2 separate regions of the Homo sapiens genome follow, and region 1 is linked to region 2. Evidence: fine-mapped expression QTL. A gene starts in region 2. The other region holds a variant in brackets. All regions are shown on one strand. Distances are between the middles of the regions.

Region 1 (14,715 bases), 24 kb before region 2:
GATGTGCCGTGGTGCCTCACTGCAGTTTTACCTTGCATTTCCCTGCCAACTAATGAAGTTGAGAACTCTTAGGCATATTAGCCCCTTAGCTATCTTTTTAAAAGTAGTACCTGTTAGCATTAGTGACCACTTTTCTCTGGGTTGCCTGATTTATTTTCCTTATTGCTCTGTGGACCTTATTTATATATTCTAGATCAAACTCCTTATCAATTACATGTATTATAGGTGTCTTCTGTCTTACTTGCCTTTTCACTCACTTAATGTTATAATTTGATGGAAAATTTTGTTTTACTGTAGTAAATTTTATCATTCTTTTCCTTTATGGTTGGTGCCTTTTATGTCAGTTTAGAAGTCTCTCCATCCTCCCAAGGACATAAAGATATTTTCTGGTGCAGTCTTCTACATCTTTCACATTTAGAGCCATCATCCACTAGAATAGACTTCTGTGCGTTGTTTTGGTCCTCCTTGTGCAAGGTCATGTTCAAGCTTGTTTATTTCTCATATGGATGCACAGTTGTCCTGAGAGCACCCACAGTCTTTGTGAAAGACTGCCCTCCTCACTCTACACCATCAACTGTGCCCTAAGTCAAGTGTCTATATACTTATAGCTCTGTTCTGGGATCGCTGTTCTGTTCCATAGGTCTATTGATCTATCCTGTGTCAATACCCATGTCTTGACTACAGCAGCTTTATAACAAGTCTTGTACCAGATAAAAGCAAGTCTTCCCACCTTGTTTTTCTTCATGCTTGGGTTTTGGAAAGTTCTCAGTCATTACCTCTGTTTCTGCCCTTATTCTCACTCTCCAAATATACAGATGGTAGATCTCACCATAGCCTCTACATTTCTGTATCAACCAGGATAGACTAGGATGTTGCTATGTTTTGGATCTATGTCCCCACCCAAATCTCATGTCAAATTGTAATCCTCAGTGTTGCAGGAGGGGCCTGGGGGGAGGTGATTGGATCACGGGGGCTGATTTCCCCATGGTCTTCTCACAATAGTGAGTTCTCATGAGATCTGGTTGTTTAGAAGTATGTAGCACCTCCCCCTGCTCTCTCTTCCTCCTTCTCTAGCCATGTAAAATGTGCCTGCTTCCCCTTGGCCTTCTGTCATGATTGTAAGTTTCCTGAGGTATCCCTAGCCATACTTCCTGTACAGCCTGCAGAACCATGAGTCAATTAAACCTCTTTTCTTTATAAATTACCCAGTCTCAGGTAGTTCTTTTTAGCCATGTGAGAATGGACTAATACAGATGTGCTGTGGAACATGCAGTCTCCAAATCTCAATGGTATAAAACAAAATGAGTTTATTTTTTACTTATGCTACATGTCCATTGAGGGTTAACAGGGGGCTTCTGCTAACTGTAGTCTGTTAGGGACCCAGGCTGACAGAGCAACCACCATCTTGAATATTGCTGGTCAGTATACCAGAGGGAAAGAGCTGAGGAGGGTCTAGCACAAACACTTCTACTTATAGCTCATTGGTCAGATCTAGTCATTTGGCTCCACCAAAACCACAAATTGGTCAGGAAGTGTAATCCTATACTATGTCTAGAAGGTGGAAGGACGGACATGTTTGATGATCAGCACTAGTAACTTACCACAGTTTTTTTACCCTCTTTTCTGTATTTTCCATCCTTTTGTTTTGAGTTTATTCTGGATATTTTCTTGTGACATGTCTTTCAGTTTACTAATTCTCTCTTCAGCTGCATCTAGCTAGTTATTAAATCCATGCACTTTGTCCTTAATTTTGGTTATTTTAATTTTCATGTCTAAAATTTTATTTGGTTCCAGCTCTCTGCTAAAATCAATCTAGTCTCTCTTTGAGCACAGTAAATATAGTTATTTGAAAATCTGTAGCTAACTCTAATATCCTGATCCCTTGTGGAGCTATTTCTATCATTTGTAGTTTCTGCAGATTTTTGTTTATATTGCCTTGTATTTTCCTGTGCCTTTGTTCTGTATCTTTTTTTTTTTTTTTTTTTTTGAGACAGAGTCTTCCTCTGTCACCCAGGCTAGAGTGCAGTGGCATGATCTCAGCTCACTGCAACCTCTGCCTCCCAGGTTCAAGCGATTCTCATGCCTCAGCCTCCCGAGTAGCTGGGACTACCAGTGTGCAGCACCACATCAGCTCATTTTTGTATTTTCAGTAGAGATGGGGTTTTGCCATGTTGGCTAGGCTGGTCTTGAACTCCTGACCTCAAGTAATTTGCCCATCTCAGCTTCCCAAAGTGCTGAGATTATAGGCGTGAGCTACCAGACCCAGCCTTTTTTATTTTTTATTTTCTTTGAGACAGGGTCTTGCTCTGTCACCCAGGCTGGAGTGCAGTGGTGTGATCACAGTTAACTGCAGCCTTGACCCCCTGGGTTCAAATGATCCTCCTGCCCCAGCTTCCCAAGTAGCTAAGACTACAGGCTTGAGCCACCATGCCCAGCTATTTTTTTTTTTTTTTCTCTGAGATGGAATCTTGCTCTGTCACCCAGGCTGGAATGCAGTGGCACGATCTCAGCTCACTGCAACCTCCACCTCCCAGATTCAAGCAATTCTCCTGCCTCAGCCTCCCAAGTAGCTGGGATTACAGGCACGCACCACCACACCTGGCTAATTTTTGTATTTTTAGTAGAGACGGGGTTTCACCACGTTGGCCAGGCTGGTCTCCAACTCCTGACCTTGTGATCTGCCTGCCTCAGCCTTCCAAAGTGCTGAGATCACAGGCGTCAGCCACCGTGCCTGGCCTAATTTTTTTTATTTGTTTGTAGAGACAGGATTTTGCCATGTTGCCCAGGCTGGTCTTCAACTTCTGGGCTCGAGCAATCTGCATGCCTCAGCCTCCCAAAGTGCTGGGATTACAGGCATGAGCCACCTTGCCTGGCCATGTCATACGTTTTACTGGTAGGAATCATTTGAAGCCTAGAAAGGTATTTTTCACTCTTTTTTCACTGAGGATTTAGGTTTTGCCATGTATTGGGGGTACCAGCGGTCTGGAGTCACTTCACCAACTTCAGAGATTAAGATGATTTGAAGCTAAGCTGAAGTCAACCTCACTCGGAGGCTACTGTCCTTAGGACCCCAAAGTGAGGATCAAATTTGCATATTCATAAATTCCTTCACTCACCCACCCACGTTTATATTTGCAAATTTATATTTACAAATATAGACAGAATCATTGATAAATGTGCAGAAGAATGTGCATAAATGAATACATCTATATAGTCATCTCTCCTATGTGTTTACCCATTTATCTGTCCAAACAATCAGGTATATGCTAATGTACGAATTAGCTCATCCGTTCATGATTAGCCCAGCCACTGGACCAACTGACAGAAGACCTGAGCTGGGAGCTGTTCTAGGTCCTTAGGACCCATCCTTGAACAAAACAAAGTCCCTTCTGTCACAACTCACAGTGCAGTGGAGATGCCAGGCTACCAGGGCGGGCAGGGCTGGGCTGGAATTTTAAGAAAGGTGGCCAAGGTGGGGTTTGCTGAGAAGGTGGCATACAAGGGAGAACTTGGAGGGGAGGGAATGAGGGCTGTGAACGCCTGAGGAGCTTCCAGACAGGAGGACTGGCCAGTGTAAGATCCTGAGGGGGACAAGGAAGGAGCCCCTGTGGCTGCCAGGGAATGAGGCACAGAGGCTGGAGGATTTGGGGGCTGATCGAGGAATACAGGACCAGGAGAGGGCGGTAGCACGCAGTGAGCTTTATTCTGGTGGCACTTGGACAGGTTTTCACGGAGGGCTTGACGCCTAGGGGAAACTGCTCAGAAGCAGGATGGGGCACCAGGGAGCTCCAGAGGGCAGCCCAGCCTGAAGGCTTTTGTAGCCCCAGGGTTTGTCTCATCCACCACTGGCAGACGTGGGTTCAGTTTTGCAGGGTATTCAAAGCAAGCAGGGTCGGTCTAAATGTCTAGAAGTATGCATATTTGGGCTCTATTTAAAGCAAATGTCTGTGTAAAATTTTGATTTTGGCCCTGGTGGGCTTTGAACTTTTGGTCCTAGCTGCTGGGAAGCAGATAGCACAGGGCAGTCCTCAGGCCGTGGTTAGCCTGTGGATCCATCAGGTGGCCGTGGAGGTGAGTTTACCACGTGTCTGCATGTCCCTGGCCCCCCACAGACCTGCAGGCCCCCTACACTGCCCCTTCTTTCCATCTCTGCCCCCTGCATCTGTAGACAAATGCTTAAGTCAGCACCGACTCAGCCAGGATGGCAGTTACCCAAGGCCACGCCGCGCCACTGCTTCTCTCCCTCTCGTCTGCTGTGTCTCCCTCCCTCCCGTGCATCTGTGAGTTCTTCCCAGTTCTGCCCACATTCAGTCTCCCTGTTTGCACTTGTCTGTGGCCAGTCTCCTGGAAGAGCTACAGGGAACTCATCCTGCCCCCGCTCTTTCCCCTCATCCTGTCTTCATCCTTCCCATGCCACGAACCCCTTGCTCTGTGGGAACGCCGGCGGCTCACCCGCGCACCCCACCTCCTTCCCCTCATCCTGTCTTCATCCTTCCCACGCCACAAACCCCTTGCTCTGTGGGAATGCGGCCGCTCACCCGCGCACCCCTAACGCAGTGCCTTCTGCTTGCTCCATGGCCCGTGCCTGTCCACCTCCACCTGGCCCCGTCGCCAGGCCTGCCACACCTTCTCGGTCTGCTCTTGGTTGTGGCACCCACCTTCAGCCACCTGCTCTTCTTCTCCCAGGCCTCTGCTCTCCAGCCAGCAGCTCCTCGGGCCCCGACTGTTTCGCAGGCCTAATTCCGAGTATGAGAGTCTCCCTGCCCCACCCGGCCCTTCTCAGCTACCGCCTTGCCTCCTTCCGCTGTCATCCAGCTATTAGGGAGCTGGCCACACTAGACAACAGGCCCTGGTCACCCCTGCTTCCCAGAGCAGGAAGGGGCAAGTGGCATTCACACACGGAGCCACCCACGAACAGCTTCCTGGTCAAGCGTGATGCCGGGACTGGCCCGCCACCAGGCGCATGTGGACCTGCTCTGAGCTCCTGCTCTTCCTTCCTCCTCACTGTGACCCCCTCCAAGCATCACCCCTGCTCCACAGACAAGGAGGGCCAGGCACAGGAAGTCAGGGACTCACCCGGCGCAGCTGGGCTTTGAGCCCGGCTCTCTGCACCCACTCCTTGCTCCTGGAGTGCTGGGGACTCAGGAGGGTGAGAGGCAGCGGCGGCCCCAGGGATTGTGTCCTGCAGGCAGAGATCTGTGGGAGACCACAGAGGAGGGAGCTCCAGTGTGCACATCCTGCGGGCCAGCCTCCTACTCAGGAAGCAGCAGTGGCACCCAAGGCCTCAGGCGTGTACTTGAGTCTGACAGAGGCGGGAAGCCTGGGCCAGGTCCTGGGGGACTGAAGGGGAAGGAAGCCCTTGGAGGCCCAGCCACAGGAGCAGGTTCCTGCTTGGACTTGGTCAGGGAGCCCAGGAGAATTCCCAGCGGCCTGGGTGGCCTGGGCTTTGGGGACAGCAGCCCCACAGGGGCTCATGCTTTGGGGCCCACCACGCACCAGCTGTGAGCACTGAGGCCCTTTCTGCATAATGGCACCCTTTCTCCCAGATGGGAGAGCAACAGTTCCTCTCCAGGCTGAGGAGACTCGGAACACGCACTGAGGGCCCGACAAATGTCGTCTGTCACTAGGTGGCCTCACTGGACACAGTGGTGAGCGTGCTGCGCTCGTGGGACCTGAGCCTCACGGAGGCCATGCTCCAGAACATGGAGGCTGAGCAGCAGCGCCGGGCCCAGGAGGCCCAGAGGCACAAGGAGGCCGAGGCTGAGCGGTGTGGAAGGCAGGAGGGGTGTGGGAGGTGCTGGCGAGGGGTGCTGGCAAGGGGCGCTGGCAGGGAGCCCGGGCAGGGGGTGCTGGTGGGGGCGCTGGCGGAAGCCTCTGTCCCAGCTCATTCCTGCTCCTTAGTATGACCCTCAAGGTCCAACAGCTGACCAGGGAGCAGCAGCAGTGTCACAAGGAGGTGAGTGTGACCTCAGGGAGGAGCCAGGAAAGGAGGAGGGAGAGCCGGGTGGGGAGGAGGGGGAGCCGAGGGAGGGCCAGGAAGCTGGGGGAAGAGCCAGGAGGGGAGGTGTCCTCAGGCCCCTGGGCCAGGAGTGACCTGGTCGGAGGATACTGGCCAGCCTTGCCAGGGCCTGCCCGTACGCCCACCCAGCTGCAACAGGCCTACTGTGAGCTTAGCCGGAGGATCTCAGAGCACGACCAGTGTGAGTGGAGGTGCATGGACAAGACCAAGCTCACGCTGCAGGTGGGGGCCCGTGGTGGACTTGATATGCCCCTGCGTCCTCAACACCCCTCCTTGTTCCAAACCAGCCCAGAGCTCCCCGCTCCCAGGCCTGGGGTTTTTCCCTCTCAAACATGGGGAGTCACCAGCCGACAGTGGCCTGCTTGGGGTGGGGTGGGGAGGAAGCTCGGGCAGCTGCCCTCTCCAGCCAGAGCATGGGGCAGGGCAAGCAAGTCAGTGTGGCCTCCTCCTCCAGGCCATCAAGGACACAGAGGCCCAGGTGGACAGGCTGCGGCAGGAGGCCCAGAAGGCCGAGGAGGCGCTGGCTATGGCCAGGCTGGAGCTTCGGGAGCAGACGCAGGAGGGTGGGCCTGGCATGGGGCGCCGGCTGGGGGCTGGGACATACAGCCCAGGGCGGGGTCCGGCGTCGGGCTTGCCTGTCAGCTGCACTCTGCTACCCCGACAGGGGAGGAAGAGGCGCCTGGGCTGAAGTGCCAGGTCACCGAGCTGCACGATGTGCTGATGAAAGATGTAGGCAACCGCATCCGTGCCGATGGCCGGTCAGTTCTCCGGGCCAGACGTGGGCGATTTGGGGTTTGGACAGACAGCAGTGACCTGATGGGTGTCCCCAGGTGGCCTCTTGTTATTGACCCTTTGGGCCAGGCGGCCACCTTCCTGCGCTACCAGGATACCAACTATGTGGACACGGTGAACCCGGAGCCCCTGAGGCCGGAGACGATGTGGCTGGCTCTGCTGGGGGCTCTGCGGTGAGGCAGGCAGGGTGACAGGTACACCCCACCCCACCTCCCTAGCCCCACCCTGGCCTCACCAGCCTCATGGGGCAGGTATGGGAAGCCGCTGGTGTTCGACCTGCGAGAGGAAGACCTGTTCCCAGTCGTGCAGCGGCAGCTGGAGGCGGTGCAGGAGAGGTACCTGTCGCTGCTGCGGCCCACGGACGGGCCTGAGTATAGCCCCACGCAGTTCCAGGAGCAGCGGCTGGAGCACTTCCGCCTCTTTTTCGTCACCAAGGTCCAGTGGCCGCCAGCTGAGCAGCTGCAGGTGCTGCTCCCAGTGCGCGTGCAGCTGCCAGGCACAGGCCTCTAGTGCTGGCCCCAGTCCCAATAAAACGTGTGCCCCGGGGCGCGGTGCTGCATCTGTGCTGCGTGCGTGGGGGCAGCGGTGGCGTGTGCCAGTCCAGGACTCCGGCAGTCCCGGGCCCCGGCCGGCGGACATGGGTCTGCAGGCACTTGGGGGAGGCCCTGCTGGGGATGGGCAGCCTGCCCGGCCGACCCGTGCGCAGTGAGGCGCAGCGGGAGACGTGGGAGGGACGGTGAGGGTGCAGCCCTCGGAGCTCAGCCTCGCCTCGGAGGGCAGGAAGGGTCTGTGCTAGTGGGTGGGGGATGGACAGGCAGACGGGAGGTAAAATGTAGTCAACTTTATTCTCCTTAAACCACAAAATAGAGTCTTTGGTTGTACAAACATCACTAGTTACAGTCTCGCCGAGGTCTCGGCTGGGGTGGGGCAGTTAGTTAGTCACAGGCCAGAACTCCTGTGGGGTCTCTTTAAAATGCTAACACCCAGGTTAAAAGACTTGGGGCAAGGGTGGTGCTGGAGCTGGCAGGGCCCCCACCCCAAGTCTGGGGGAGGTGCCTGCTCCTCTAGGAGGGCACAGGGCCCAGGCCACGGCGCCCAGGCCTTACGGGGCGGCGGCTGCTGCACAGTGCCACATCTTCAGGGCCCACAGCGCCGGGTGAGGGCCTGCCCAGAAGCACCAGAGCCACTTCTCCATCCTCCTCCTGCGGGCCTGGAGGGCAGGGACAGGTGGGCAGTGAGCTGAGGGCAGCTGGGCTCCTGGGAGCTCACCCCAGCCCGGCCCCAACTCACCAGGGCTGGGAGATGGTTCCAGGGACCTCAACTCCTCAGCAAAGTCCGGTGACTGTGATGGGGAGAGTGTTGGTCAGGCCGGTGCCAGCCCTGCCCCAAACCACCCAGGTGGACGGGTGGGCTCCCAGCCCTGAGGCCCACAGAGCCCGGCTGAAGGGGGAGGGGGGGTGAAGAGGCAGGGCCACGGCAGAGCGTGGGGAGGCCCTGCGGGAGCGGATGGGGGCGGTGGCAGGCACGGACAGGGTGGCAGGCATGCAGAGGCCTGGAGGCCAGGTACCTGGATGTCATAGACAGGTCTGGAAGAAGGCAGGGCCGCAAAGGCCCTGTAGTCAAACTTCTTTCCAGACAAGGGCTTGAAAGGACAGCGTGAGGGGAGAGGCAGAGAGTGAGAGGAAAGGGGGGGATGAGGGCCACGGGGGTGGGGGCAGGCCAGACCCCACCCCCATGCCTCGGGGGTGAAGGGAAGGCATAGCCACCGGCTCCTCACCAGGCGTCCCGGGGAGGTGCTGGTCTGGGGGCCGAGGTCTGGGGGGACAAGAAGCGGGCATTGGAAGCAGCCCATGCGGCAGGCTGACCCCCCCGACCTGCCCTGACCCACAGACCTTCCACAGGGGTGGGCGACGGGGTGGGCGCAGGGGAAGGGGCCTCGGCCAGTCGCTCCAGGGGCCCCCGCGTGCCCCGGCCTTCCTGGGACCTGCTGAGGACCATCTGTGCTCGGAGAGCGTCCTGTTCCAATGACTTCATCCTGCAGAGAACAGCGGGCAGGGGTGACTTGGGGCAGGAGCAGGGACAGGCAGCAGGGCGGGGTGGCGACCCCACACAGGGGCTCACCTGGCTGCCCTCCACAGCGCACGCTTCTCGGCCTCCAGGGCCCGGAGCTCGGCAGGGGACAGGGCACGCTCGGGTGCCGGTGGCTCCGGACTCTGCACGCGCAGCCGCTCCTGGTGGCGCCGTTCAGCTTTGGCCGTCCGCACCGGGGCGCCACCTCCCAGGGGTGGGGGGGACGCCGGGCTCTGCCTGGGGAAGGGACAGGACGTGCTGTGGGGGGCAGGGGCACGTGGGGTGAGTAGGGGGCGTCTGGTGGGCGGGTGCTCACCTTGAGGTGGGGCTCGGGCTGGCCCAGGGTGGCTGCTCATCCTCCTGTTCCTCCTCGCCCAGCGTCTCCCCGTCCAGGGCGAGCCTCGCTTCGGCCCCAGCCTCTGCCGCCTCCCGCAGCATCTGCGCTCTCTTCTGCTGTAGTTTTCTGGCTGCCGGAGGGCAGGGTGGGTCAGGCCAGACCAGCCGAGACCCAACCCCCACCCCACTTCCGTGCCCCTCACCTTCCTCCTCCTGCATCTTCCGCAGGTCGTCAGCACCCACCAGGGACACGCGCTTAGGGGGGCCCTCGGCCTGGGGCACGCGCACCTCCAGCTCAAAGTACTTCTGCCGCTCCCGGAAGGACAGCTGCTCCGGGGAGGCTGCAGGCCCAGGCGTGGGGGGCTGGGGGGAGCGGACCTTGAGGTTTGGCTGGCATTCCTCCGAGATACTGGGGCCCCCGGGCACCCACCCCAACCACGCGCAGCAGGGAGGCGTGCTGCCCCCACACACCTGGGCAGGGGCATCCTCAGGCGGGTGAGAAGTGGGCACGGCCGCGAAGGCCCTGTAGGCCTGCTTCACATTGGCGGGCAGCTCATCCGGAGAAGGCGGGGAGGGCGGCTGGGGGGTGGGGCTCTTGTGAGCTATGCTGGGGCAGCTGTCGGGGCTGCAGCTGTGTGCAACTCACCACCGGCTGTCCCCCCGCCTGTCCCCCCGCCTGCCTTTGATCCCCACCCACCATCCTGCTGGGGAAGGAGGCTCTGCCACCCCCACCCACGGGACAGAGCACTCACGGAGTGGGGACAACCTCTGCCCCTGGGGGCTGGGGAGCCCCTTGGCCAGGCCTGAGCCAATGGCTGGATCACCCCTGGTTTTGTCTAAAAAAGGCAGGTGGGGGCGGCGGGGGCAGAGGAGAGCAGGATCAGGGGTTTAAGGCAAGGGACGGGGGTAGAGAGGGGGGTGGGAGAGACAGAGAGAGAGAGACCGACCAACCTGGGTGGGGCTGACATCTTGCCTGTGAGGGGCTGAGCTGGGGCTGGGTCTCATGGGGGCTGCCACCTCCACCCCCACGTGGCAGTGTGTTGGGAGGTGCCAACAGTGGGGGGGCAA[G/C]GACCCCCAGACAAAAGGCAGGCAGGGATAAGGTGGGCCCTGGGAGGTGTTGGGCCTGAGACACTGACTGGGGTCTCAGGAGCTTGAGCCCCTCCAGGAACAGCACACTCAGGCCCCCCACCCCATCGCCAGGCAGCTCTGGCCAGGAAAGCGTCCCTGGCCTTCCTCACACAGGAGGCCCCATGGTAGCAGAGGGAAAACCGGAGTCAACAGCACCCCACGATGGCCCCTGACCCCCCATCCCTGGAGGAGGGGCCCTGTGCACAGCGGCCATCTGCCCTGCCCTCCACCCACCATGGGGCACACCCGTTAACTTGGGACACTCACCTGCTGGCCACTAGGGGAGCAGGGAGATTCAGCCATCTTCCCTCCAGCTGCTCCAGACGGTACCTGGAGGAGTAGGCAGTGGGTGGGGTGAGGATGGGCAGGGCTGTGGCCCCCGACCAGGAGGGACTGGGGGCCCTGGGGCTTGCCTAAAAGCCACAGCAGCTCTTCAGTTCCCCAACCTGACTATAGCCCAGGGGATGCCCCAGACACTCGGTCAGCACGGAGGGGCTCGTCCCCGTTCCCACAGGATGCGGGGGCCTGGGCTGGGCAGCTGCTGTCTCCATGGCAGTGTGCTGGCTGGAGCTTTGCAGGAGAGATGGGAGCAGACAGGACAGCCGGAGAAGAGAGCAGGGAGGGCTCGGGGGAGGGGCCAGAGACAGAGGTGATGGTGGGGAGCCCCTACTTGTGGTGTGCAGCCCTCAGGGCTCAGTGGCGCCCTGACTGCTGCCCCCATGACTGTGCTGTTGTTCATGAGGATGAAGGGCCTCCCGGAAGCCTCCCTCTTGGCGCTGCCCATGGCCAGAGGAGGCAGGGTCAGTACCCAAGAGCCCCCGAATGCGCTGCCTCAGATCCAGGCCCTGCCTGGCCCCTCACCACCACCCCACCGCTTGGGCAAGGGCCTGCAGGAGCCACCCCTCGGCACTCACGTTCGGTGGGGCTGGTGGGGCGCACCCTCTGGGAGGGTTATTTGTATCTCTAAGGGGAGGGATGGGCCTGCACATCCTCCTGCCTGTCCCCAGCACCCGCCCCTCCAGCTGCTCCAGCCTGTCCTCCCCTTGGGGACATGTGCCTGCCCAATCCCCCAGGAGCCTCTGCCCCCACTCGCACCCTCTGGGGCTGGGCAGCCCCAGCAGCAGCAGGTGAAGCTCTCGCACCGCCACTAGAGGGATGCCTCGGCCTGTGTCACCCATCCGCAGCTCAGGGTGTGTGGGTGGGGCAGCACCAACATGGCTTGGGTTGAGAATGAGGGTGATAAGCATGTGCCAGGCTGGGGTAGCCTGCAGGTCAGACGTGGCCTCCTCCCACCCCAGCCCCCGCCCAAAGGTTCCCTCCCGGATGGCCCTGGCGTTTGTCCTGGGGTGGCCGATGAACAGGACAACAGGACGGAGGTGGGGGGCACTGCACACTGGGCACTCACCCTCTGCACGCTGCCAGCGCTGGGCACGGCGGCCAGGGCGCGGTAGTCCAGCTTCAGGGGCTGCAGACCCCGACCCTGGGGGCAGAGTGAACACAGCACTAGCAGGGGTAGCTCCGTGGCAGCACCCGGCCAGCACAGGGCAGGAGAGGGGGTCCTGGGGGTTACTACCCAGCACCCCACAGGCAATGTGCACCCCGCTCCAGTGCCCTGATGTGAGGGGGTGGGGCGACCACACTCACTGCGGCTTCTGTGGCCTCGGGCCCCCAGTGCAGGGTCTGTCCAGGCAGCTCCTTCTCCTGTGAGCAGAGCAGAGCAGACCCGTCAGGCACCACCGGCCTCGGGCTCCCTGGCCCTGGGGCTGCCGGCTGCAGGCACCTCTGACCTTGCCTGGGCCCTCAGGGCTCAGCTCCCGGTCGATGGAAGAGATGCTCTCCAGGCTGTTCCGGTGGCCGATGCCTGCCGCAAAGGGGTTGGCAATGACACCTGGGGACACCTGAGAAGAGGGGTGTGGGCTAAGAAGGGGGGACTGCAACCCGGGGTCCCACCTCTGGGGCAGGCTGGGGTCCCAGCCCAGAATAGTCAGCAACGGTGAGCCCAGGAGCCGCGTCCCTGGGCAGGGCTGACCGCGTGGCTGGGGCAGCCTTGGAGGGCACTCCGCTGGGCCCCCCAGGACGCTGCAGCACTGTCCCCGGCCGGTCCCCATCACAGCTCACAGGGCTGCCGTGGACGTGGTCACGTCTGCACTAGGCAAGACTGTGAAGTAGCATGATGCCTGCCACTCTGCTGACTGTGTAAAGTCATCCCCAGGAAGAGCTGACAGCCACCAAGATGGGGGAAGGAGGGGCGTGAGTAGCAGGCACTGGAACTGATGGGGCAGAACGGCCCCCTCGGGTGGAAAGGCTGGCTCCAGACCCCAGTGTGAGTGCTGGGCAGGGATTCTGAAACAAGGGACACCATGCAGGAGGCCCGGCCAGCTCTGCACTCCCCAGAGCTCAATCACCTGTCCCAAGCCAGAGACTGGCAGGGCGGAGGGGGCGTCTAGAAAGGAAAGGCACTCAGATAGCTCAGGCAGGGCAGAGGGGGGCGAGGAGACAGGGCCAGGACAGGCAGGGGCTTCTGGTTGGGCACAAGATGTACTTGAATCCCGAGCCTGGGGTTAACACGGGCAGAGGGAACCATGGGAAGAGCTGACTTCCAAGCCTGCGGCGGGCAACGGGACTGCTTCAAACCTCCACCCCCAGCAGCAGCCAGAAGCAGCGGAGGAGGCAGCACAGTGGACACAGGCATTGCTCACCGCCCTCATCACAGACGGGGTCCCTGCAAAATCGAGGAGCTCTCAGTGTGGCCTCAGGGACAAACCCAGCCCTGTACTGTTGGTTAAAAACACAGCTGAAATGGTAAGTAAGGGGCAGGCAAAGAGATGCCAGGCAAACACACGGGAGGCACAGGGAGGGGCTGCTCAGGCCGGGGGAGAAAGGGTGTGAGTTCAGAGCTGTCGAGCAGGCAGACGGATGCCGTCACCACAGAAGATGCTGTTTACAACGATGATACAGTCATCAACTGTAAGCGCTCAACAAGGAAGCAGCTAAACACAGAAAGCAAAGACTAGAAACGCGAGTGTCGTAAAAGCACAGTTACACAGGCAGACTTAGCTACGTCTCTTTCAGACTCACAGGACTAGCGGGACAAACAACAAACAAGGTGCCTGTCTTCTCAGTTTCTGAAATAACAAGTCAAAAAGCCACTGGGCAGGTCCAAGAGAGGCAGGGGTCCTGGCAGAGTGGGAAGCAAGGTCCCAGGTAGCCCGGCCTCTCATGTCAGAGAGAGCTGTTCAAACACAGAAAAGGCAGACCCGGGTGCTGACTCCGACAGCCACTAGGAGCTCACCCTCTTCTACTGTTCCAAGAATAACCTTGGGAATGACCGGCATACCCTCCAGCTCTGGCCCCCAGGAGGTCCCGAGATGACACCCCAAGAACGCTGGGTCCAGGGCCAGACCACAGCTTCTAAATGTCACTCTCCACTAAAAGGATCCAGCGCTCCTGAGAGAAAGGGGCAACTCCAGGGCTGGGCAGGGTATGGAGAGAAGCCCAGCACATCCTGGAGGCAGAAGGTGAGGGGCTGCTGAGAGAGGGGAGGTCGTGTCAGAATGCCTCAGGTCCTCAAGCCCCTTCCGTGGGCCAAGGCTGGGACAATTTGAGCCTCAAAATAAATTACGATGGTAAAAGGCTGTCGCCCATGAAATAAAATGGAAGCTCACTTGTTAATGAAATGGACTCCCTTGTGAGCCCACGTGAACAGGTAAGCAGACACACATAAACTGGGAGAAGGGAAGGCTCGGTGGCAGGAAGCTGCCTGATGAGTATGGCAGTGGTGGGTCAGGAATGTCGCCAACCACCTCGGGGCCCGCTCAGAACCATCAAGGTGCTGAGGCTCACAGGCGAAGCTGGATGAGAAACAGCCTATTATATGCTCTCAAAGCACCTTCCTCACTTGCTGATTTCAAGGGGCAGGAGTAACTGCAGGGGGAAACCTGGCTGACCCCACGGTTCAGAGCATCACCAGTGAGCCCTGGTGGTAGGCACACAGACACGTGGTAGCTCCATGATAATCCCGGCCAAGATGCACACGCTGAAGCCTGTGAGGACATCAGACCCAGCGTGGGGGCAGTCACTGCAGGCAGGGCCTACGCCCAGCAGAAGCGTCAAGGTCAGAGAAATCAGCAAAGACAGAGGCACGCTCCGACCGAAGGAGACTAGAGGGATGCGGTGGCCAAGCCCCACAGGGATCGGGCCGCGCCCTTCCACGACGGAGCACGTCCCCGGCGCAGTGGGTGAGCCATGAATAGGGCTGAGTGTCAGAGGTTCTTTGTCCTGTTTTTGCAACTTTTCTCTAAGTTTAAAATTCATTTATGTATGTGCTTACATTTTTCAAAGAGAAACAAATGGCAGAATAAACCAAAACT
Region 2 (8,000 bases):
CCTCTGCAGCAGGTGAGCGTCAGGACCCAGGCTAGTCCCCAAACCCTGCCTGAGAGCCACCCCGCGCTAAGCACCGGTTGCCAACAACCTACCGAGGCTGGGTGGGGGCTGCTGGGGCAGCAAGTAGCAGGTGAGCACCTTCTCGCCGGTCCGGGCATCATCCTCCGTCTGGAACCGGAGCATGGGCTGCGCCTGGTTCTCTGCCAGCCACAGGGCCTTGAGATTGAGGTGGGTGAGCGCGAACGGCAGACTCTGCAGGCTGCGGGCCGGGCGGGCACAGTCAGCAGGCGTTGGGGCCACGGTTAGGCCCGCAGGGCAAGGCTGGCACTCACCGGTTCCCCGCCACGTCCAGCACGTGCAGCTCTGTCGTGTGGGCCAGCTCTGGTGGCAGGACGGCCAGGCGGTTGTCCCTCAAGGAGAGGACGCTGAGTGCCACACAGCCCCCGATCTCGGGCGGCAGCGCCTCGAGGTGGTTCCGGTCCACGTTGAGGTTGGTCAGCTTAGTCAGCTTTCCCAGGGAGCGGGGCAGGGCCTGGCCAAGAAGAGGAGGTCAGAGGACGCTAGGGGCTTGCTGGGGGTGGGAAGGAGATGACAGCCCCTGGCAGGAGGGCACAGACACCCCAGGCCAGCTCCAGCCAGGGTCCCTCACAGCCCCTGGAGACCGGGACAAGGACCTGACCACAGAAGCTGTCTCCACCCCACTTCGTGCCCTCTGCTCCCCAAGCTCTGCCCACTGCCCTCAGCCTTCAGTCCCCACCACCAAAACACCCCACCAGGTCATCCCTGACCCTCTCCCATGGGTGCCCTGGACTGACCTGCGAGGCTGCGCCCTGTGAGCCTGTCTGGTGCCCCACTGGTCTGCCCTGTCATCCCTAGGGCTCCCCAGGCCCCCAGTTCCAGCCTGCCTGCTCAGGGCCAGCCCCTTCCCAGGGCCCTGAACCCCAGAGTCCCTTTCTCCATCTCCCCAGTGAGGAACCCCCCCGGAAACTCCCATGAACACCCTCCCCACAGCTAGCTCCTGTTTCCCAGCCTGGGGATGGGGATAGCAACACCACCGTCCCGAACCGTGGCCTGGTGCCTCAGCTTGCCCTGCTTTGTGAGGGGCAGGCAGACGCCCCTGGGGAGCAGCCTGCTCTCCATCTGTCTTCCCTACAGACAAATAAGTTCCCATTCCTGCCTCTTCTGTAACCGCTCCCCAGTGTTACAACATACAGCGATAAACACGAGACCTAGATTCTTCACGGTAAACGGCAAAGGCCCCTGCCCTGGCCTCACTGCCCCGCCTCACCTCCGGCCAGCATGCTCCCCCTCTGACAAGAGAAGAGCCCTTCCTGAGTGGCTCCACGTCAGGCTGCCACCAGCACCCCCCAGCAGCAGACACAGGCTGATGCCCTGTCCTTGTTCTGCACCCCCGACGGCCCCATCCTTTCTGCCTCCCAAGCCAGACCCTACCATCAGCAGGTTCTCCGTGAGGATCAGCTCAGAGAGGTTCTCACAGTCCCCGATGGCCTCGGTCACCTCGCACAGCCGATTCTGGTCTACCTTTAGGATGGATAGCTGCTTCAGCTGACCTGGCGTCGGGGAGACAGGGGGACAAGGCTGAGCATGGTCCCCAGACGTGCCTTACCCACCTGGCCAGAAGCGCCCTCAAGGCAGACAGCAAGGCCCCCAGCCCCTTCTGCCGCCGCCGTACTTCGGGAGGACCCTACCTACCTTGCCCCACAAGCCTGACCCAACCTCCTTCAAGAAAACACCAGGCCCCAGTGGCACTGCCACCCTTCCGCCCTCACAGACTCCACCGCCCCCTCCAGCACCACCAGCTGCCTCCTCAGCCTTCTGGGCTGCCCCAGGGTCCCACCTCCCCTCCCCAGGGACAGCTCCCAGAGCCTGGGCACACTCAGGATCCTCCCCTGTGTTCCACACCACACACAGCCCCGACGCCCCACGCTCCTCCCAGGGCCAGGCTCCGTGTGCCCCACCCAGGCACCCCCAGGCACACTAACCGATGCCGTCGGGCAGCCTCCGCAGCAGGTTCTGGGACAGCAGCAGGTCAGTGAGCAGCACCAGCCCGCCGAGCTCAGCAGGCAGCTCCTCCAGCCGGTTTTCCGACACGTCCAGGCACACCAGGCGCCGCAGGTTCCCGAGCTCCTGCAGGTGGGCAGAGAGTCAGAGCGCGGATGGGCACGAAGCAGGGGGCCAGCCCCACCCTGACTCACCGGGGGCAGTGCTGACAGCTGGTTCCGGTCAAGCCACAGCTCCCGAAGATTGGGCAGAGCCCCCAGAGTGTCTGGCTGCAAGAAGGAACAGAGAAAATAGTGACTATGAGGCAAAGCCTCCTGCTGCGCCGTGCTCAAGAGACTATACGCCCCCACACCCAGCTCCCACCCGCCTGCCCTCCCGAGGTGCCCCTTGCTGTCGGATCTGCTCGCTGTCCCCTTCTTTGCCCTTGCTTCCGTGGCCCGCCCTCCGGTCTCTGCCCTGTCAGGCCTCCACGCACCAGCACTTCCAGATCGTTGCCTCCCAGATCCAGCTGTTCCAGCTTGACCAGAAATGACAGGGACCTGCAGAGGAAGCAGGGTGGAGGTGTGGCCACGCAGCCCTGGTCCCTGGGCTGTGGCCCTGCCCTGGCTGTTAGGAGAATGCCTGTCACACTCACGCTGGCAGGGACTTGAGCAGGTTCTCCCGGAGCTCCAGGGTCACCAGGTTGGCGAGGCTGAAAGAGAGACCAGGCGCTGGGGCAAGAGGAAGGAAAGCAGTGGCAGCAGGGGCAGGGCCAATCCTGGTCCCCCACCCCACCCTAGTTCCACCTGAGAAGGCACTCACTTGCCCACGTCCCCGGGCAGTGCCTGCAGAGACACATCATTCAGGGCCAGGTGAGCCAGGCTGCGCAGCTGAGTGAAGCCATCAGGGAGCCTGGATGGGAGGAAGCAGAGGCCCTCGGATGACCAGTCCAGGGCTGTGGGACCCATAGCCCCTACCGACCCCACCACAGGCTGCCACCCACCTGGAGAGGGGGTTCCCGCTGAAGTCCGCGATCTCCAGAGCCTTGCAGAACTTGATGCTCTCCGGGATCTCAGGGATATCTGTCACAGAGGGTCACAGTGGACAGATGCCATGGCCTGCAGGCCGTCTGCAGCCCCAGCGGACACTCCCCAGACCCCACCCAGCCCCTGCCCAGGCTCCCCACCGTTCCGGGACACGTCCAGCTCCACCAGCTGCATGAAGTTGGCCACCTCGGGAGGCAACCGCTGGATCTCGTTGTCGCTCAGGCCCAGCTTGCGCAAGTTCAGCAGCCGGAAAAAAGGCTGTGGGCAGGGAGGACACGGACTCTGTGGCAGAGACCACTGCAGAGCAGAGAAGAGCTCCTGGACACGTGAGTGTCACAAGTCAAGAGTCCCTAGGCCTCTGTCTGCTCCAGGTCACACCGGGTCCTGGGGTCTAACCACGACACCCCATTTGCAAAAAAAGGAAAGAAACACACGGTACACACGCCCACTGTGGCTGCCTCCCTCTACTCTTCACACCAGCCTCCACTCTGAGAAGACACCTGCTGGCGACCAGACAAAGCCCCAATCCCCTACCCTGTGTCTTACCTCAGGGCCCACCCAGCCCCTGAACCACTTCTGCCACCCTCCAGGGGCCCACACTGGCCTCTGCTACTGCATCCTGACAACAAGCCTGGCCTGGTTCTGCAGCAAGAACTCAGTAAACGCTCCCCACAATAACACAGTACCACAGGCACAGTGCTACGCGCGAGGCCTGCAGGTGGCCACAGAGGACCGAGCTGTCACTGCCACGGCCAGAACAGGGTCACATTCTTTGGGACACCCAACCCCTAGGTACTGATCACCCAGCACCCCATCTCCAGAAAAGAAATACTTTTTAATCTGCTTTCTCCAGCCTCCTTTCTTGTAGCAGCCTTAGGAGAGCACCTGACCACGAGAAGCAAGGGTAAAGAAAGGGGGACAGCGAACAGATCCGAGAGCAAAGAGTACATCAAGAGGGCTCCCCCACTCACCCCTGCACCCAGCAAAAAAGGAGAGGAGGTCTGGACCCACCTCCAGAGCGGCCCAAGAAGCTAGTACTCATCAGCCACCTGAATCCAAGTTCCACCCTAACCCCATCCACCTCCCTGAATCCCCACGGGTTTCACTCTGAGGCTCCGCCTCCAGGCTCGGTGACAATCGCTATCCCCAGGCAAGCACCTGATGACCGCTGCCACCTGCGCCAGCCAGGGCGGCTGGAAGAGAAGGGTGGGGCTGGCTGGGGTGGGGACCTGGCCAGTGCAAACCAGCAGGGCCGGCTGGAGGCTGCGGTGACTCGCCCGGGCAGATTCTGCCGCCGGAGGAATCACGGGCTGGGGGCGCGCCTTTGGGCGGCAGGTGCGGGCGGCCGCTCACCTTGGGCAGCTCGCGCAGCTGGTTGGCGTCGAGCAGCAGCTCCTCCAGGCTGCGGCTGTAGCGGTAGATCTCCTCCGGCACGGCCTGCAGCGAACAGTGCCGCTTGTCCACCGACTCCACGTGCCGGTTGCAGCGCCACAGCGGGATGCACTTGAGCATGGTGCGGGTGGGCGGCGCGGGCTCCGGCGGCGGCGCTCGGCGGGCTCGGGGCCGGGGGGCGGGGCTCAGTCCGCATGGGCGCCGCGCATGGGGAGGGGGCGCAGGCAGGGGGCGGGCCGCCCGAGACTGGACGGGGACGCGGCCGCGGCCGGCGCTGGGCCCGGCCCGCGCTCGGAACGCTCGGACTGCGGGCCTGGGCAGGGGGCGCGGCCCGGCGGGTCTCAGACTCTTAGGAAGCGCGGGGAGCGGCGGCGGCGGCGGCTCCGCATCCCGCTTGGTCCTGCTCAGCTCGTCCCGCCCGCTCGTCCGCCCGCTGTGCCGCACCGGAACCGCCGCTGCCCGCCGGACTGCCCCGCCGACACCCACCCGGCCGCCGCGCAGCCCGTCGGGAAGCCGAGTCCGGCCCTCGCCGCCTAGCACGCCCGGACTGCGGCCCCCAGAAGGCCCCGCGCGCCGCCGCCTCTGAGGACCCGTAGCGGCACCGCGCAAAGCGTGCCGGGAAGCCGGGCCCGCCCCGCGCGCGGGATATTGGGAGCTACAATCCACGAGAGGCGGCGCCCTCCGCCCTCCGGTCTTCAGCCCGGCCCCTGGCCCCGCGGCATTTGGCCACGAATCTTAACGCACAGCCTCCTCCCGGGAAGCGACCATGCCCGCCCGCCCGCCTTGGACGGCCGGCTCTGCGGCACAAAAGCACTGGCAGCGCGCGCTGTCCAGCGGGTCGCGGTGTCCCGGTGCCCAGCCTTCTCTCAGCACCACCCTGCGGGGACGGCTGCGAGCCCGCGCGCGAGAGCCTGGCGCCCCAGGCAGCCCCGCCCACCCAGCCGCCGCCACCCGCGGGACGGGGCCCGGGGCGCCAACCCCCTGCCCAGGTCTCGCCCACGGCAGGCCCCTCCTGCCAACAGGAAGCAGGTCCAGAGACCCCCCCAACCCTGCCTCCTCGCCCTAGACCCCCTAAGGACACACGCCCAGGATCGGTGACAGGACCGACGGCAGACACACGGACGTTCAGGGCCAGCAGCATCCGCACCTTTATCCGCACTGTAGGCTGGGCTGGGCAGAGCGCGCCTGGCCCCGGGGACACCACTGTATCACTATAAAACCCAGAGGAAACAAGGAACAAGTGCAAGTCCGGGGAGAGGGACCACTGTCACGCAGAGAGGTCACTGTTATCAAAACGCTCCTGGTCGTACACTTCAGCCACCACCTTGCGGCCAGCAAACCAGCGGCCATTGAGGGCCTGGATGGCCTTATGAGTCTCAGAGGCTATGGAAAACTCCACAAAGATCTTGACAATGATTTCTGCATCCTCCTCCTCGCCTTGTTTCTCTTGGTAGATGATGACGCGGTTCACGGCCCCGAACTTGCCACACTCCTCTGTCACCTCCCCTTCCAGGTCATCATCGATGTCCTTGGGGTCCACCATGTTGCGCAGAACCATCACTGTAGACTGTGGGGCAGGGCCGAGGGGAAGACAGCTGAGCACTGCGGCCCCGCCCCCCTACCCTCTCCCCCGCCACCACCCTGCCCCTCTGCCTACCTCCTGCTTGCGGAGCAGCTTCTGCATCACCATGTGTCGGGCGCTACTGCCCGAGATGCTCATGTGCTCCTGCTCGCTCAGCATCTCTGGCCGCTCTGACTCGGGAAACAGCTCCTCTTCTTCCTTCTCCTTCTTGGGCTCCAGGAGACCCAGCGTTGGAGGGCTGGCCAGGATGGGGTTCACCACTCCCACCGAGGGGATGGTGACCGGGATAGGAGGACGGGCTGGGGTCACACCTGCAGGAAAACCAACCAGGTCCATCAGTCACTCCCTACCACCCCCCTTCCCAGAAAGGCACAGAGCTGGCCTGCCCTGGGCTCAGAGGGTTGTGCCCAGACCACCAGGGCCAGGCAGCTGAGGGCAGCGAGCCGAGAGATGCCAGGACAGGAGAGGAGAGGATCTGGTACCACTTAAGACTCACCTGTGATGACTCCAGGTGCCTGGGCAGCCATGACAGCCTGGGGCAAAGTGCCCAGGGGCTGGGCCAGGGTCAGTGCTGGGGACACCAGTCCAGGTGTGCCCAGGGTACCCAGCACCGCTGCTCCGGCCACTGCTTCCTGCAACCCAAAAGGTCACCGTGCTCAGTCCCTGGTCTGGCTACTCAAGACCACCTTGAATCAGTCTCCAAGGAATCAGGGGCCAGCCCGCCCACCCTCAAGCCGACAGCTGTGTGGGCCCTCACCTGAGCTGTGATCTTGGCAGTGGCTGCAGCAGCTGCCACAGCAGCGGCAGGTGGGAGGCCTCCAGGCGTGGCTGGTGTGAGTAGGGGCATGGGCGGTGTGACAGCCTTGCCCACCCGCAAGTACTGGCCACCCAGGTCAAAGAGGTTCATGGAAGACACAGCATCTTGGGACGACTGGGCCTTCTCGTACTCTGTGGGCAGGAGCAGCAGTGAGCAGGGCCAGCCCCAGCCTCAGGTGGCCCCCATCCCGCCTCAGCCACCCCAGCTCACCAATGAAGCCGTAGCCCTTGTGCTTGCCAGTTGTGGGGTCCCGGGCCAGTGTGCAGGACTTGATCTTGCCAAAGGCCTCAAACACGCTCTTGATGTCATCGTCTGAGAGGTCCTGGTGCACAGAGGCCACGTAGATGCGGTTGAAGGCCCGTGCCTCCTCAGCCAACTGGTCTATGATGGGCTGGGCCTGCCCTATGTTGCTGGGTCTGCCCACCTGGGGAAGAGGCGGTGAGATGGAAAGACCGGTCAACCCAGGCCCGGCCACAAAAGGCTTCCGTGGAGGGGCAGCCCTGCACGCCTGCGGGATCGAGGCCTTGGCTCCCTGCCTCACCTTGATGTTCCTGCCCCCCAGCATCACCGAGTTCATCTGCTCCAAGGCCAGCTGTGCAGCTTCGGGGACCTCATACTCCACGAAGGCAAAGCCCTAGACACAGGGACACACCTGTCAGGCTGCGCGAGCCCAGGGGTGGGGGCGAGCCCGAAGTGGCCGGGGCGGACCAAGCCTGCTGACCTTGTGCTTCATGGTGACGGAGTCCCAGGACATGTCGATGCTCTTGATGGGGCCAAAGGGGGCAAAGGCCTGGCGGATGGTGTCCTCCCCCAGCTCATAGTAGATAGAGCCCACGTAGACGCGGCACATGATGGCCAGCGCCCGCTGCCGCTGAGCCGCCATCTGCAGCAGGACAGAGGGGAGAGAACCGCTGGCTCGTCAGGGGCGGCAGGAAGCTGGGCAGCCCACTCCCCTCCTGGCCCACCCACCCAGCCCTGCTGTGGGGAGGGCTCCCCACATGACAGGGAGGTGCGGGCTCCATCCCTGCAGTCATAGTGTGGGGGTCGCAGGACCCCGCCACCCAAAGAAGGAAGGCCAGGCCCAGCGGCAGGACAGGACGCACCCCAGCCCGCCAAGGTCCCAGGCAGACTGCGGCAGCAAAGCCGACAGATGGTCAGGAGG

The links.
Region 1: its variant is fine-mapped to the expression of SCRIB in whole blood (TOPMed, PIP above 0.99). The same link has a PIP of 0.9 or more in thyroid and tibial nerve.

Annotation. Positions count from the first base shown.
Region 1 is chr8:143,783,288-143,798,002 of GRCh38, forward strand. IQANK1 (IQ motif and ankyrin repeat containing 1) reads left to right here. Exons shown (of 14, transcript NM_001381874.1): 8 at 5,628-5,776; 9 at 5,902-5,956; 10 at 6,149-6,241; 11 at 6,474-6,582; 12 at 6,684-6,777; 13 at 6,850-6,984; 14 at 7,063-7,358. The coding sequence ends at 7,321. SCRIB (scribble planar cell polarity protein) reads right to left here. Exons shown (of 37, transcript NM_182706.5): 25 at 12,133-12,243; 26 at 11,990-12,046; 27 at 11,751-11,825; 28 at 10,613-10,675; 29 at 9,689-9,796; 30 at 9,421-9,580; 31 at 9,198-9,348; 32 at 8,933-9,118; 33 at 8,704-8,846; 34 at 8,589-8,626; 35 at 8,379-8,453; 36 at 8,102-8,153; 37 at 7,638-8,021. The coding sequence ends at 7,876. Among named protein-coding and RNA genes, the nearest start is that of MIR937, 22 kb to the right of the region's middle. The variant G/C (reference allele first, on the strand shown) is at 10,286.
Region 2 is chr8:143,810,814-143,818,813 of GRCh38, forward strand. SCRIB (scribble planar cell polarity protein) reads right to left here and starts at 4,960. Exons shown (of 37, transcript NM_182706.5): 1 at 4,401-4,960; 2 at 3,188-3,305; 3 at 3,005-3,083; 4 at 2,824-2,913; 5 at 2,657-2,713; 6 at 2,498-2,561; 7 at 2,217-2,291; 8 at 2,004-2,148; 9 at 1,453-1,571; 10 at 333-532; 11 at 93-259; 12 at 1-3. The coding sequence starts at 4,559. PUF60 (poly(U) binding splicing factor 60) reads right to left here. Exons shown (of 12, transcript NM_078480.3): 6 at 7,560-7,721; 7 at 7,380-7,472; 8 at 7,049-7,262; 9 at 6,779-6,969; 10 at 6,518-6,653; 11 at 6,097-6,332; 12 at 5,531-6,006. The coding sequence ends at 5,707. It overlaps MIR937 (microRNA 937), which reads right to left and starts at 2,229; the gene lies at 2,144-2,229. RefSeq lists enhancers at 3,338-4,002, 4,287-4,919, 4,920-5,552.